Linked DNA regions of Homo sapiens. The protein of the gene in region 3 interacts with the protein of the main gene of each other region in a biochemical or structural test. Each region holds a gene or a part of one and is shown on either strand. Other genes may lie near its edges. The genes, in order: ABCC4, PBK and SHROOM4.

Region 1 (3,651 bases), on a different chromosome or scaffold from region 3:
GATCGGTGTCTGGGAGGCCAAGGTTACTGCCTTGATCCTCTGCGGTTTAGATTATTCATTTAGCAAACATTTGAGTGCCTTATTTTTATTTTATTTTTTGTTTTTAATTTTTTAATTTTTGAGATGGAGTTTCACTCTTGTTGCCCAAGCTGGAGTGCAGTGGCGTGATCTCGGCTCATTGCAACCTCTGCCTCCGGAGTTCAAGCGATTCTCCTGTCTCAGCCTCCCAAATAGCTGGGACTACAGATGTGCGCCACCATGCTCAGCTAATTTTTTGTACTTTTAGGAGAGATGGGGTTTCAACATGTTGTCCAGGCTGGTCTTGAACTCCTGACCTCGGGTGATCCACCCACCTGGGCCTCCCAAAGTGCTGGGATTACAGGCGTGAGCCGCCATGCCCAGCCTGGACTATGTTTTCTACCCCAACCTTGTGGTCAGAGGTGACCATGAAACTGAGACCTGGCCAATAGGAAGTGGTTGCAAAAGGTGTCTCGCTTCCACGACTGGAACACAAAAACCAGCCCCATGCAACGCCTCTCCAGCTGAATAAAGAGGCCTCCTGGAGAGGAGGAGGACTGAGAGGAGGCCGAGCCGCAAGATGGTGAAAGTCCAGCTAGGAGTAAATGTATGGTGTTGTTCACCACCCTAGATGGCCCAAAAGGGGACTATAGCATGACAATAGGCATGGTCTTGGTTTCTTGTTTTCTTTTTTGAGACGGAGTCTATCTCTGTCTTGCAGGCTAGAGTGCAGTGGCGTGATCTCGGCTCACTGCAACCTCTGCCTCCCGGGTTCAAGCGATTCTCTTGCCTTAGCCTCCTCCCAAGTATCTGGGATTACAGGAGCTCAAAACCACGCCCGGATAATTTTTTATTTATTTATTTATTTTGTATTTTTAGTAGAGAAGGGGTTTTGCTGTGTTGGCCAGGCTGGTCTCCAACTCCTGACTTCATGTGATCCACTGCCTCGGCTGGTGATTTTGAATTAAGCCATTGAGAATCAGGGCTTGTTTAATAGCTAGCATTATTTGCACGATACAGTGGCTGCCTCCCTCATTGTGTGAGCTCTTTGAGAACAGGAATGGTACTTTATTGTAATGGATTTGCACCTGGCAAGAAAGAAGGCACCCTGCCTTCTTTCATGGTGGCACATGCCTGTAATCCCAGCTACTTGGGAGACCGAGCAGGAGAATCGCTTTAACCCAGGAGGTGGAGGCTGCAGTGAGCCAAGATTGCACCACTGCACTCCAGCCTGGGCTACAGAATGAGACTCTGTCTCAAAAAAAAAAAAAAGCAAAAGAAAACGTAGTCCAGGCTGGGTGCGGTGGCTTATGCCTGTAATCCCAGCACTTTGGGAGGCCGAGGCAGGTGGATCACAAGGTCAGGAGTTCAAGACCAGCCTGGCCAACGTAATGAAACCCCGTCTCTACTAAAAATACAAAAATTAGCTGGGCGTGGTGGCATGCACCTGTAGTCCCAGCTACTCGAGAGGCTGAGGCAGGAGAATTGCTTGAACCCGGGAGGCAGAAGTTGCAGTGAGCCAAGATCACGCCACTGCACTCCAGCCTGGGCAACAGAGCGAGACTCCATCTCAAAAAAACATAGTCCGTGTGTCCAGCAGTCGCTGCTGCAGGAGTTCATCCTGAACCCGTGTTGGGTGTGCTGGAGTAGAAGTATGGAAAAGCTGTGTGAGGGTGGGGATTTTGTTTTTGTTTTTGTTTTTTGAGATGGAGTCTCTGTCGCACAGGCTGGAGTGCAGTGGCATGATCTCGGCTCACTACAACCTCCGCCTCCCGGGCTCAAGCGATTCTCCTGCCGCAGCCTCCCAAGTAGCTGGGATTACAGATGTGCACCACCAGGCCTGGCTAATTTTTTTGTTGTTGTTAGAGACAGGGTTTTGCCATGTTGGCCAAGATGGAGATCTCTGGGGAGGGGTTTACCTTCCTGTTGGAGCTTGGATGGAGAAGGTGGGAAATCGTTCCTGGCAGGGGATGAGATGTCCAGGTCACAGAACTGCAGTTGGAGAAAGTGTTGCCTGAGACGTGTGGCGAATGACCACCCCTCAGTCGCTATGTCGTCCCTGCCAGCCGGTAGCGTTTGTTACACCCAAGGTTGCCCTCCCCTCTTTCATCCCAGCAGATGTTCAGACTTTGCTTCTCCCACTTCCAGCCCCTTACTCATGAGTACTTACAGCCCTTTTGTGGCCTGCGACGTAGCTCCTTGTTCCATTTCTGGGTTCCATGACCACTTCCGTGCTGGTCTGTTTCAGGCCTAGTCCCTGTCTGCTCTTTTCTCTGCGCTAGCTCCTATCTTCCCCTTTTCCTTAGTGTCATAGAATTAGTGGGTTGAAAGGAAGAGATCTTCTAGCCCACACTCAGTACAGGAATCCCTTCCAGATACTGGGCAGTGGGGAAATGCATTATGTGACTCTCATGACTTTAGATTCGAATGCCAGAATTATGTTGTATTGAGCCACAGTTTTCTTTCCATGCAATTTCTACTTGTGTTTACTTACTTCTAAGAAAAGCATTACAGAATTTAATGAAGCAAAGAATGATCTGTGAATCAAGCAGCTCCTAGAACCAAAATAGGTTCAGAGCCGCTCTCCTTTGTTTTTTTGTCAACACGCAGAGCAAGTTGGCTACCTCCCTTCATATGCTCGCCTCATAGTATTCAAAGACAGCTATCATGGCCACATTAAATCTTTGTTTCTTTGTTTGAGACAGGGTGTCACTCTGTCACCCAGGCTGGATTGCAGTGGTGCGATCTCAGTTCACTGCAACTTTCACCTCCTGGGCTCAAGCCATCCTTCCACCTCAGCCCCCTGAGTAGCTGGGACCACAGGTGTGTGCCAGCATGCCCAGCTAATTTTTTATATTTTTTGTAGAGATGAAGTTTTGCCATGTTGCCCTGGCTGGTATTGAACTCCTGGGCTCAAGTGATCCTCCCGCCCTAGCCTCCAAAAGTGCTGGGATTACAGGCATGCGCCATGGTGCCTGGACAGGAGTTTATTTTTGACCCTGTTAAGTTTGAGATGCCTGCTACACATTCAAGTGGAGATGTTGAATAGGCATTCAATTGGTCATGAGTTTGGGGCTCATGGAGAAGTTTATCTTATTATTATTATTTCTTTAAATGGAGTTTCACTGTGTTGCCCAGGCTGGCGTGCAGTGGTATGATCTTGGCTCACTGCAACCTCCACCTTCTGGTTCAAGCAATTCTCGTGCCTCAGCCTCCCGAGTAGCTGGGATTACAGGCACGCGCCACCACACCCAGCTAATACTTGTATTTTAGTAGAGATGGAGTTTCATCATGTTGGCCAATGTGGTCAGGAAGTTTATGTCAATTTGGGCATCATCAGTGATACATGCAGTTGAGCTATATTGGACACATGGCCAATTGACCTCACAGTCCGCAGGGCTTGTCCCCATGTAACTGCTCTTCTATCCCTATGCAAATTCATTTTGTAGATGCTAACGTTTAGCAGCTCATTGTTGCTGTTGAAAGTTCTTGGAACACTTTCGTAGTCTGAATGCTAGAAAGGATGGGTCCTAGGAATGTCCTCTAGGTTGTGGCAGATCCACTAATCAACACTGTGGTTGCTAGATTAACTTGGCCACAAGTGTCAAGAGAGGTCGTGTCATATGGAGGTCT
Region 2 (3,651 bases), on a different chromosome or scaffold from region 3:
TATCTTAGGAGGGCAACGCTGCAGAAAAGACAGCAGTCACTGACATCACCCAATACTGGCTTCCTCTTTGAGGTTTTCTCATGAAGAATCTGGTTTAATTACCACAAAGGAACCCTTTCCCCTGCCACTTCCCCTTCTTATGGAAGCCAAGGAAAAATTAAAAAGTAAATGACTTCCCCTTTAATAACCCATCAGGAGGAAGCTAGGAGAAAAGCAGAGGCAGAGCTACAGGCAAAGTTACAAAAGGGTCTAGGGACCGGAATACAGCCATCAGCCAGGATCAGGAGCAGACAACCGAATCTAAATACTGGAATTTTCAGACTACTTCTTTGTCTCCAAGTACAGTAGAATTATAGTTGCATGAAAAAAGGTTAATCTGAAATCTTATACTTACCTTTTCATTAGGTACACATTTACCCCAGTACCAAAGCCAAGCTTCTGCATAAACGGAGAGGCCGGGATATTTATAGTTGGAGTTGAACATAATACTAAATGTCAGAGAAATAAAAAATAAAATTAATAAAAAATAAAAATAAAGCATCTTAACATTCTCAATATACTACTGCCAAGAGTATTAATTGGCACAGTCTTTTTGGAGAGCAATTTGACAACATATATCCTAATTTTAAATGGGTATCTTTTGACCAAGCCTACTTTTGGAGTTTTATCCTACAGTAACTCTGAAGCAGAGATTGGGAAATGGCCTGTTTTTGTATGGCCTACAAGCTAAGAACTGTTTTCACATTTTTAAAACATTGTTAAAAGATAAAGGGGTTGGATGTGGTGGCTCATGCCTATAATCTCAACGCTTTTGGAGTCCGGGGCAGGAGGGTCACTTGAGCCCAGTAGAGACCAGCTTGGGCAACATAAAGAGACTCCATCTCTACACACGAAAAAATTTTTTTAATTAGCCAGGAATGATGGCACACACCTGTGGTCTCAGCTACTTGGGAGAAACACTTGAGCCCAGGAGGTTAAGGGTGCAGGTGCAGTGAGCTGTGTTCAGCCTGGGTGACAGAGCAAGACACAGTCTCAAAAAAAAAAAAAAAAAAAAAAAAAGATGAAAAGATGGAGTTCTGCTTCTGCTCATGAAAAATAATTAACTACTCCTGGACAATTAACTGCTCCTAGAGTTACCATCTCGCCATTAACTAGAAAACTAGACAAAATATAATTGTTTTCAGACACTTGACAACAGGCAGAGCAGTGTTGTGATGCCTGAGAGAAGAGAAACAAATGAGGTGGGCCCTATCACTGCCCTAACTTACTGCTTGAAGGCAGTTTCCAGACTGCAGGACAGAGGTCACATAATCCAGAAGTCCTGTCACATTGAAGAGACAGAGATCAGAGGTCAAGAAGGACTAGGCGGCTAGAATTTGTGGAGCAGAGAACTAGAGAGCTCCAAAGAGAGCACTCCAAAGATCTGAACAGTTTCTCTTTGAGTGTTTGGCCAAGTACTTATCCGCACATAACAATGTGTAGATGCCCCAAAGCTGGGAAAGCACCAGAGGAAAGCAATTGGCTCAACAATTACCAGAGATCATACAAGTCTAGGAACACTTCATATCACCATGAGCTAGAGGATGGTAACCCTGTAACACATAGTAAAGTCCTCTAAAGGGTCACAACTAGATAGTACAGCTAAAGTTTAGCCCCAGATAAACATTCAAAACAAAGCTTAAAAGCCAGTCTCAAAAGGAACAGGCTAATGTGCAGGTAACTTAACCTCAGACCATAACTAAATCAAACACTCTTTAAAGGAATAACAAAATCCAGTACTAGACAATGCAAAATATCTACTGCCCAATCAAAAAGTACCAGGCATGAAAGCAGCAAGAAAATATGACCAATATAGGAGAAAAATAAATCAATAGAGGCCTAGCGCGGTGGCTCACGCCTGTAATCCCAGCACTTTGGGAGGCCGAGGCAGGCAGATCACTAGGTCAGGAGTTCGAGACCAGCCTGGCCAACATGGTGAAACCCCGTCTCTACTAAAGAGGCAAAAAATTAGCCAGGTGTGGTGGCACGTGCCTGTAATCCCAGCTACTCGGGAGGCTGAGGCAGGAGAATGGCGTGAACCCAGGAGGCGGAGGTTACAGTGAGCTGAGATAGCGCCATTGCACTCCAGCCTGGGCGACAGGGCACAAGACTCCATCTCAAAAAATTAAAAAATCAATCAATCAATAGAAACATACCATAAGATGACAGGAGGCCAAGAGTGGTGGCTCACGCCTGTAATCCCAGCACTTTGGGAGGCTGAGGCAGGTGGATCACTTGAGGCCAGGAGTTCAAGACCAGCCTGGCCAACATGGCGAAACCCTGTCTCTACTAAAAATACAAAAATTAGCTGGGCGTGGTAGCACGTGCCTGTAATCCCGACTACTCGGGAGGCTGAGGCAGGATAATTGCTTGAACCCAGGAGGTGGAGGTTGCAGTGAGCTGAGATCGCACCATTGCACTCCGGCCTGGGTGACAGAGCAAGATTCTGTCTCAAGAAAAAAAAAAAAAAAAAAAATGACAGGAATGGCAAAATTAGCAGATAAGAACCTTAAGACAAATCTTAAAAATGTGCTCAATGATACAAAGGAAAATCTGAGCATAACGGAAAAAAAAAGACAAAATAGAAGCTTAGGAATGAAAAATACAATGGATAAGAATAACATCATCTTAGAGCAGAAGAATAACTAAATCTTAAGACAGAGCAACAAAAACTATCAAAAATGAAGCAAAGAGAGAAAAAGGTTAGAAAAAAATCATCAATGAGCTATGGGACAATAGCAAAACAGCCGATTTACATCCAACAATAGACAATTACATTGAGTATAAATGGTCTAAACAGAGCTGTCCAATACATCATGCTGCCATGTGGAAATGTCTATATCTGTGCTGTCTGAGCGCTGAGCACTTAAAATGTGACTAATACAACTGAGGAACTCAATTTGTAATTTTATTTAATTCTAATTAATTTGTATCCAAATTTAAATAACCACATTTAATAATCCAAATTTAAATAACCAAATTTAAATAGCCACATGTAGCTAATGGCAAAACAGTCCAGTTAAAGGAAATTAAAGTTGTCAGAACGGATAAAAACAAGACGAGACATGCCATTTATAATAAACTCAATTTAAATATAAAGACGCAAATAGGGCAAGAGTAAAGGGTTGAAAAACATCATTAAAACACAAATCAAAATAAATCTGGAGTGGCTCCATTACTATCACATAAAGTGGACTCCAGAACAAAGAGTACCACTGAGGATTAAGAAGGGTATTTCGTAACAGTTAAGGTATAAATTCATCAAAAGAAATAACCATCCTAGGCCAGGCATGGTAATCCCAACACTTTGGGATCTGACTTGTGGTTTATGTGTCTTGGTGAATGTTGCATGCACTTGAAAGGGAGGCCAAGGAGAGTGGATCACTTGAGGCCAGGAGTTTGAGACCAGCCTGCCCAACATGGCGAAAACCTGTCTCTACTGAAAATACAAAAATTAGCCGGCCATGGTGGTGCACGCCTGTAATCCCAGCTACTCCAGAGGCCAAGGCACCAGAATCACTTGAGCCCAGGAGGTAGAGGTTGCAGTGAGCCGAGATCACACTGTTGTACTCCATTACGGGTGACAAAAGGAAACTCAAAAAAACAAGAAAA
Region 3 (3,651 bases):
GGGCCTATCTGCAACTTGCTTGTTTTTCTCAGTACTCATCTGATGTTTTGCAGGGAAATGGCTCATTCCAAGACTAGCTTTTCATGGGCAACCCCTTTCCATCCTTGCCTTGAGAACCCAGCACTGGACTTGTCAAGCTACCGAGCAATTTCTTCTCTTGACCTCCTTGGAGACTTCAAACATGCTTTGAAAAAATCAGAGGAAACTTCAGTTTATGAGGAGGGGAGCTCCCTTGCCTCCATGCCCCACCCACTGCGCAGCCGTGCCTTCTCAGAGAGTCACATCAGCTTGGCGCCCCAAAGCACCCGGGCCTGGGGGCAGCATAGGAGGGAGCTCTTTAGCAAAGGTGATGAGACCCAGTCGGATCTTCTCGGAGCCAGGAAGAAGGCCTTTCCTCCTCCTCGCCCTCCTCCTCCCAACTGGGAGAAGTACAGGCTCTTTCGTGCAGCCCAGCAGCAGAAGCAGCAACAGCAGCAGCAGAAGCAACAGGAGGAGGAGGAGGAGGAGGAAGAAGAAGAAGAAGAGGAAGAGGAAGAGGAGGAGGAGGAGGCAGAGGAGGAGGAAGAGGAGCTGCCACCCCAGTATTTCAGTTCAGAAACCTCTGGTTCCTGTGCTCTCAATCCTGAGGAGGTCCTAGAGCAGCCACAACCCCTCAGCTTTGGCCACCTGGAGGGCTCGAGACAGGGTTCACAAAGTGTCCCAGCAGAGCAAGAATCCTTTGCACTCCATTCCAGTGATTTCTTGCCTCCAATAAGGGGTCACTTGGGATCTCAACCTGAGCAGGCTCAGCCCCCTTGCTACTATGGCATTGGTGGGCTTTGGAGGACATCGGGACAGGAAGCCACTGAATCCGCCAAGTAAGTACATATGAAAGATACTAGGTCTCTGAAGAGGCAGGCAGCACAAGTTTGAATTTTACCTCCACTATTTACTAACTGGATGACCTCAGGCTGGCCAGTTAAACTGCTCCCAGCCTCAGTTTTCTTACCTGGAAAATGGGTATAATGATACTTGCTTCACATGATTGTTATGAATATTAAGATAATCTACATAAAGGATATAGCTCCATGCTTAGCACATAGTACATGCTCAGTAAATATCATGTTCTTATCCCTAAATATCTTTATTAAAGTACTATACTTTTCCTTAGTGTGTCTTCATGGTATCCATCAATTTCTGGCCCCTGATCCCAAAGGCATTGAACACTTGTTGCCTATACTAGGTCTTTCCCAGAAACCTGGCTCAGGCACTTTTCCTGCCTTCTCTTCTGCTTGCCCTCCAGAATAAGAGGCCAGCTCACAACCTGACCTGCCTCTGCTCTAGGACAAGTAGCCTGGGCTTCTAAACTCGTCCCCCCACAACCACCAGCATCAAAGGTATTCCTGGGGCTGGGTGCTTCATGCCTTGATAATTCCTTACAATAGATAAGGACATTCTTTTTCTCTTCCACTTTCTCCCCCTCCTTGTTTACCTGCCTCTTTGCATTCATGTGGGTGTGTAATAGGTGGTAGTTGACAGGGTGAGCTGCCTGGGCAGGGAGGCCAAAGCAAGAGTGTGTTCTGGCAGCAGGACTGCCAGTGTTTGTTCACTCCACTGAGCCAGTTGTCATCTGCATGCCCTATAGTGCATGGTTGGGTTTTTTTTTTTAATTTCTTTTGCTCCAAAGCAAAAGCCCCAGGACCATCATTGCTATTATTGCTCAGTGCTCTGGCTGTCAGCAGCTCCACCTGCTCTCCTGTGGAGAGCTCAGCCCACTCTCTGCTGGGGCTGAGGTTCGGGAGGCAGGTGGCTTATAAGTGCTTTCCTTAACTCTCTTTATAGCAGGAATTTGCCTGAGACTTGTTGCGGTTAGAAGTACCTTGTTATCATGTCTTTTATTGTCAGACAAATCTGTGACTTGTCTATGTGGAGCTAGTTGATCAGTTTTCCAGCCCAAGATGCCATAAGCACAGCATTTACAGGGCCTGGCTCCCAGGCACTGTTAAGAATCCTTCATGAGGGGGGGAGGGGGGAGGGATAGCATTGGGAGACATACCTAATGCTAGATGATGAGTTAGTGGGTGCAGCGCACCAGCATGGCACATGTATACATATGTAACTAACCTGCACAATGTGCACATGTACCCTAAAATTTAAAGTATAATTAAAAAAAAAAAAAAGAATCCTTCATTAGATCCCATGTGGCTGCTTCTCAAGCTGTTCTTCTACCTGGGGAGCATTCTCATTGTAATTAGAAAACATTTTGTGAAAAATACCTGTGATTGTTATCTATCATAGCAGGGAAAAGGGAAAATGACCTCCCAATAGTAGGCACTTAACAAATATTTAAGAAGAAAGAACAAATAAATGAATGGATGAACATTTATTAAGTATTTCTTATATACCAGACACTGCCAGACATTATGTATCTATTTCATTTAATCCTCCCAATAGCCCTATTAGCCATTATTATCCCCATTTGACAGATGAGGAAACTAACTAATTCCAAGTTACACAGCAAACATTCAAAGCCAGAGCTGTCTGACTCCAAAGCCCATGCTTATTTTGCCTTCCTAGGCAGCCTCTCCCAGAGAGATCTTGTTCTTTCCATAGGCCAGGAGTCACAGGGTCCTCTTCTCTCCTGTAGGGCAAGGTGTACCAGAGGCAGCAGTTACAAGCCCTGGTTCTTCCTTCTTTGTGTAGCTCCCTTTGCCTTGGCACCTTGGCCAGACAGAAAGAAATCACTATTACTAGAGATCTTGTAACTTGCTCCAGAGATTTATTTTTAATGACTCTAGGATGTAAGGGAAAACATTTGTTTGCACACAGCTCTGCTTGTGACTACAAAATCAATTAGATGCTCCTTTGAGTGATGGAGATTTAAGGAACAGCATCATTCCCAAAATAGCTAATTTTTTTGATTGCTTACTATGTGCCCTGCATTGTTCTAAGCACTTTGGGTAATGATTGATTTAATCATGAAAATAAACCTATGAAATAGTTACCATTCATCTTCTCCATTTCTTAGATGAAAAAAGCAAGGCCCAGGGAGATAAAGTAACTTTATCACAAGATCTCAGGTAGCTCACTATGCTTGCTATATCATCCCACGATCTCTGGGCTCTTGAAGAAGATTCTATTCCAGACCCTAGGAGAGGACAGTGTCCTAGCCAGAAGGAAGCAGCTTTAAGATTTTGTAAGGGACATATAGATGCATAATATTTTGAATCTAAAATGCAAACAAAGATATCCTAATTTCAGCCAAGTTAAACTCTAGTACCTTTATAACCTACATACTGTTCTGTTAAAAAATGCTGGGATACACACAGAAGCCAGCTAGTGGAATAATTAAGTATTATTTAAGTCTAATAACTGATTCAGGTATAGGTATAGCTTGCTTTATGGACTCTATGCATTTCCTCTCAGTGCTCTGTGAAAGGAATCTGCTTTTTGCTTTGATGTTTACTACATAGACCACCTATAATCACTTCCCTATTAATGGAGGTGATAAGGAAAGGATCCCTAGAATATAGTGCCTAATGTGATATACTATAATATGATGCAGGGATGTGTATGCTGGGGAACTGAGTCTCCAATTAGCACATCCTTTTTTTCCTTTATAACACCTTCTGACACAGAACTTTCACACATACCCTAAATATTTTTCTTGTA

The links.
Region 1: the proteins of SHROOM4 (region 3) and ABCC4 interact in a test that uses a peptide from one of them, tested with the Homo sapiens proteins (one large-scale study listed by IntAct).
Region 2: the proteins of SHROOM4 (region 3) and PBK interact in a test that uses a peptide from one of them, tested with the Homo sapiens proteins (one large-scale study listed by IntAct).

Annotation. Positions count from the first base shown.
Region 1 is NC_000013.11:95,291,424-95,295,074, reverse strand, and holds part of ABCC4 (ATP-binding cassette sub-family C member 4), read left to right. Parts: intron 1-3,651. UniProt on the Homo sapiens protein: ATP-dependent transporter of the ATP-binding cassette (ABC) family that actively extrudes physiological compounds and xenobiotics from cells.
Region 2 is NC_000008.11:27,827,711-27,831,361, forward strand, and holds part of PBK (lymphokine-activated killer T-cell-originated protein kinase), read right to left. Parts: intron 489-3,651; coding exon 395-488; intron 1-394. UniProt on the Homo sapiens protein: Phosphorylates MAP kinase p38. Seems to be active only in mitosis. May also play a role in the activation of lymphoid cells.
Region 3 is NC_000023.11:50,604,587-50,608,237, reverse strand, and holds part of SHROOM4 (protein Shroom4), read left to right. Parts: intron 1-53; coding exon 54-857; intron 858-3,651. UniProt on the Homo sapiens protein: Probable regulator of cytoskeletal architecture that plays an important role in development. May regulate cellular and cytoskeletal architecture by modulating the spatial distribution of myosin II.